Linked DNA regions of Homo sapiens: region 2 is linked to region 1. A link means that fine-mapping ties the variant in region 1 to the expression of a gene that starts in the linked region. Tissue or cell type: sun-exposed skin. Region 1 holds a variant in brackets; the other region holds the start of a gene. All regions are shown on one strand. Distances are from middle to middle.

What was found. PIP is the estimated chance that this variant, and not a neighbour inherited with it, causes the effect. A credible set is the group of variants that fine-mapping cannot tell apart.
Region 2: SPINK1 starts here. The variant in region 1 is the best candidate, but not a certain one, in a credible set for the expression of SPINK1 in sun-exposed skin (GTEx, PIP 0.54).

What each region holds. Positions count from the first base shown.
Region 1 is chr5:147,904,959-147,907,728 of GRCh38, forward strand. It overlaps C5orf46 (chromosome 5 open reading frame 46), which reads right to left and starts at 1,580. Exons shown (of 4, transcript NM_206966.3): 1 at 1,474-1,580. The coding sequence starts at 1,543. The variant G/A (reference allele first, on the strand shown) is at 1,533.
Region 2 is chr5:147,830,204-147,832,817 of GRCh38, forward strand. It overlaps SPINK1 (serine peptidase inhibitor Kazal type 1), which reads right to left and starts at 1,468. Exons shown (of 4, transcript NM_001379610.1): 1 at 1,320-1,468. The coding sequence starts at 1,374. It overlaps LOC124901101 (a long non-coding RNA gene), which reads left to right and starts at 302. Exons shown (of 2, transcript XR_007058987.1): 1 at 302-667; 2 at 1,206-1,408.

The DNA.
Region 1 (2,770 bases):
TGAATAAATAAATGTTATCTGTTTTATTGTTACTATTAATAATAATAGCAGCAAAATGATTTATAATTCACTTTCTCCTCTAGTGCTTTAGAAGATAATATAAATTTTAAAAATGCTATTAAAATATTAAACGATTGATATCCTAGAAACAATCTTCAAAGTCAATAGTTTAATATTTTCTTTTTTCAAGTATTATATGGGATAGCCTTTATTTACAGTAACTACTTTGTTGAGTTTCTTAGTGAATGTGAATATAATGTTCTTAATAAACAGTATTGCTGATATTTGTAGAGTTTTAATAGTTTACAAAGTAATTAAAAAGCATATTCATTTGACCTGGTGAAGTTGATAGTTATCCCGTTTTACAGATAAAGAAACTGAGGTTCAAAGCAGTGAACGATTTAACCAGTTTCAGAGTTTATAAGAGACAGGGTGGTGCCTGGTCTTGGTATCAAATCTCTCCTTTCACTTCACTGTAGTGATTTCTTTAGGAGTAGAATGGACTGAATAATATCCGTGGCCATGTCTAGAGTAATTCTGTTGTAATGTCTGTCTGTGTGTTCTTCAGCCAAGTTACATTCAAAGGATTCTGTCACTAAATGTTTGCACTCCCTCTGTTTTCTGGTCTATCATTCTGAATGGAGCTCACAGACTTTTGCAGACAAACAGTAAATTAATTAATGAGAAGGCAGCATACAGCATGAGCTTCTATGTGCTTGGAAAAGGTGGGAAAGAAATAGTTGCTCGATAATAGTAGAAAGAATCTAGGAACCTAGGTTTCACTCCCAGATGCCACTTTCACCTGTATGTATGCTCAAGTAACTTGCCCTCTGCAACCTGTTTATTAACCTGCAAAAAGGAAAATGATAAAACTGTACATGTTTACATCATTGGATTACTATGAGAACCAAATGAGATTATACATGACAACAATAGCAGGTAGTATTTATTGCATGCTTACTATCAACCAGGTACCCTTCCAATTTGTTTCATTCCTTTTATTTAATTTTCATGATAACTTTACGAGAAAGTTAAATGTCCCCATTTATATGTGAGGCCTAGAGAGATTGAATAGCATTCCTAAAGTCACATTTCTGGTTAGTGGTAGAGCCAGGTACAGGAGTTTTATTCCAGAGTACATATTCTTCACCAATGAACATTATTAGGAATAATTATCAAAAAATAAATGCCAGTCAGCTCCCATGGAATTTATACTAGAATAGTGTCATTATATCATAAGAGCACATAAAAAAATTTCAAACTTCATACATCCACTGAAAATAGAGGCTAGGTTTTTATTAAAATTCTACTTTCTTTGTGTTAGAAGATACACCTCTTGTCTCCCAGGCCAGTGCTCTTTCTGGAGTGCCCAAAGACCCCTTCTTTCTTTTATGTTCTGAATCAGTGCCATCAGCTTTCTCTAGTCACTGCTAACTACTGAACAATTCATGGGCTGTGATCAGAAGCACTTACCTGCATAGCAGGTCAGGAATAAGACAAGCAGTCCCAGGACAACTGTCAGGCGAAGTACT[G/A]AGACAGCCATTCTGGTAGCACGGGGTATTCGTGCAGATAAATTGTTCAGATACATGTGAAACAATGCTCCATTTATAGGGCATAGATAGGTGACATCATCTGCTTTGGAATTTAGATTGTTGCACAAGATGTCTGCACAGCTTGCTTTTGGATCTGTACTAATGAGACATACCCTATCATTCAAACCAAACATTTTACATATAGGGAAAGAAAAACCCTCTTGATTTTTAAAATTTGTATCTATAAAGGGTTCTGGAGTGAATCTCTTGAGGCTAGTTTCAAGGCCAGCATTGATAATTAAAGGGATATCAGGTAGAATTGCTCGTCAGTGCCAAGCAGCAGGCAACAAATCAGATTGGCAAGGCAAGCCTACACCCTCCCTTTACACTCTATGCCTTCCCTCGTGCTCTGGGACAATCCCTTGTTCCCACATGGGCATGCCCTTTCACACCCCATGCGTCTGCTCTTGCTCTTCCTTCTTCCTCAGATACCCTCCTCCTTGTCTCCCTTCGGATCACTCCTACGTATTCCTCAGTTCAAATGGTCCTTCTTTGTGATACCTTCATGATAACCACTCCACCCTTCTCCAGGCAGTTTGTTACTTCATCATCTGCCCTATAGCACACTTGACCCCATTGTATAAGAACTAAGTGTTGGCTGGGCGCGGTGGCTCACACCTATAATCCAAGCACTTTGGGAGGCTGAGGTGGGCGAATCACGAAGTCAGGAGTTCAAGACCATCCTGGCCAACATGGTGAAACCCCGTCTCTACTAAAAATACAAAAAATTAGCTGGTCGTAGTGGCAGATACCTGTAATCCCAACTACTTGGGAGGCTGAGGCAGGAGAATCGCTTGAACCCTGGGAGGCGGAGATTGCAGTGAGCGGAGATCACACCACTGCACTCCAGCCTGGGTGACAGAGTGAGACTCTGTCTCAAAACAAACAGAAAACGACAACATAAACTGTCTTATTTATTTTACTTTTATTTTTCTCTTTTTTTTCCATCAACTTTTATTTGAAGTTCCAGGCTACACATGTAGCCAGCAGGATGTGCAGGTTTGTTACATAGGGAAACATGTGCCATGATGATGATTTGCTGCACAGATCAACCTGTCACCTAGGTTTCTTTCTTTCTTTTTTTTTTTTTTTTTTTTTGAGACTGAGTCTCGCTCTGTTGCCAGGCTGGAGTGCAGTGGCGCGATCTCAGTTCACTGCAACCTCCGACTCCCTGGTTC
Region 2 (2,614 bases), 75 kb before region 1:
CCAAAGAGCTATTTCCAACAATTGCATCATATGGACTATGGGTCTAACTCACATTTGTTGAATTTACAGGTAGTCAAAATAGCTAATCTCTATTCCCCCAGAAAATAGCAGAGGTTTTGCTGACAACATATAGGAAATGATAACTGTGGATAAGTTCATGGAAGGGAAAGGGAACTAATATGATAGCAATCAAATAAGGAAACATTCCTGAAAATTAATTTTAATATCATCAATCTTTGAGGTGATCTGAGCAAAGAGGTAGTTCTTTGTATCTAAATGTAATGAAAATTAGTGAGGCATCTATGAGCTTGGAGAATTTCCCCCGGGATAGTCAGAACTTGATGTTGTTGGGGGCCCACTGGCTTTTAGAATCTAGTTGAGTCTAAAAACTGAAGAGCAGGTGCTCATCACAGGCATCTATTTGTATTAATTAACATGCATGAGGAGGGGGAAAGGGAACACTGACTGTTGCCATAAATATTCAGCAAATAAAACAAACAATATTCTTCCTCTTCTTAGCAAAGTGCTGATTTGGCTCTCCACAGGATCCTTCACTACATGAGAGGTGAAGTTGAAAATGTTAACCATTTCCAGTGATAAAAAGGAAACTGATCTTGGCTCTGCGGGTTCAGAGTTGTCTGTCAACATTGTCAAGATGCAGTTGGAGGTATATGTGCACCATCTATTCAAGCAGAATATTTTCTTTCAAAACATTCAAAATGTGTAATGTAAATACACAAAATGCAATTTTTGTATTTCCAGATACTAATAAGAAATACCAGGAATTGAAAATAAAAAATTCCCTTTATATCACATATATTAGCTATTCAGGGATAAATCTGACAAACTATACATGATTCAAGTACACTGAAACCTATACAATAAAAAAATAAATTTTTAATCAGTCAAATTATGCCTTTTATACTGAATAACTGGAAGCCATTTATCTATTTTATGCAATCCCATGAGAATTTAAAATTTGTAATTTGGCCTTACACATTTACAGAATGAGAAGTATACTTAAAGTTAAAATATTTTTACCCTTTTTTCTCTACCATATCCCAACAAAGGGTCAGCCACATCAATAGAGGAAAACCATTTTATTTCTGGGAATTTCTTACTAGTAGAATTGTTTTCCTTATAGTAGGTTAAAAATTCCTCTTAAAAAATAATTCTTACCTGTTGATTTTATTTCATCTCATTAGGTCCAAAACATCTCTCGAAGACTAGACTACATCAAAAGTCTAGAAGATAATGTGCTTCACAAAGCAACAGGTCAAAACAGTTTTATTTAAATTTGAAAAATATGCAACACTTACCAGATAGACTCAACAGGGCCAAGGCACTGAGAAGAAAGATGCCTGTTACCTTCATGGCTGAAGTTCTGCGTCCAGAGGTCAGTTGAAAACTGCACCGCACTTACCACGTCTCTTCAGAAGCCTGGGACTGGAAGGGTCATATGGCAGATGGCAGCAAGGCCCCACCTACTGGGCTATATCACAGATCTCCCTGGTTATTGATTGACTCTGTGTCATAGCCTGGCCTCCAGGTTCTGGGAATGTCACCTGTGTAAGAAAGGTGAAAGGAGCCAGGTGGGCCTGAAACATGCAAGGCAAAGATTCTGTCAGGAAAATAGTTCTAGTGGTTAGTTTGATCCCTAACTCCCTCTGTGGTTGTGGGAAAGTCATTCCCTTCTCAAGCCTGTTTTCTCACCTGTAAGATGAACTCAAAGATCCCTTCTACTCTGTAGTTCTGGATAGATGAGCAGGTATGGATAGCTACTAGAAAGAATTTTATTCCAAGTAGGGTAAAACCTCTCCATTCTTTTTTCCTTTCCTCCACTCTTCCTTTCTTATTCTTCTTTCTCTTTTCTCTATTTTTCCCTCACTCATTCACAAAACCTAAAGTAGCTGATGGAGTGGCAGATGAGAGGGAAAGAGAAAGCAAGAGAGAGAGAGGACTCAGTTCCCTAAAGCGTGTATTCTGGAGCTAGAGGGTGCTTGTTGGAGCCACTTTTGCTGTGCTTCTGTGTATTCATCTGGAAATTAAAATAATAATAACACCTAATTCAAAGGGTTACTCTTTCATCTGAGAATATGTGCTGGGTAAAAGAGAATATGTGCTGGATATCTACCATGTGTTATTAGAAGAGAATTCTCCATCCTCTCTCATGTTTTGGTGTGTCTTATGAGTAGAGGTACTGATAACCTTTGTTTCAGACTATCTTTTTAAGGGTGTTTATATAACAAACGACCTTAGAAAATACGTAATGTCTCCCTCTGCACCAAAAGGCAGGTTTGTTTACTGTTTAGTGTAATAAAGTTAATATCTCCTTCTAGGGCAAAGACCATGTTAATTGCCCTTTACAAAAGATTTCGGGTTTTTAAAAGCTTGGCCTTTCTTTCCTTTAACACACTGTACTTTCCCTGCAACTATCACTTGATGCCCCTTAAATTGGCCTGTGGAAATTGGGGCTTGGGAAACCAGAACAAATTCCAATACTCTGGCTGTTGCTATGGAATAATTAAGTCCCTTTTCTCTGAGCCAGGAGTCTGTGCCTTCTGCCAGAAACCATTATAATGTGGCAGGCTAACTTCTTAGCTTCCAAGTAGGA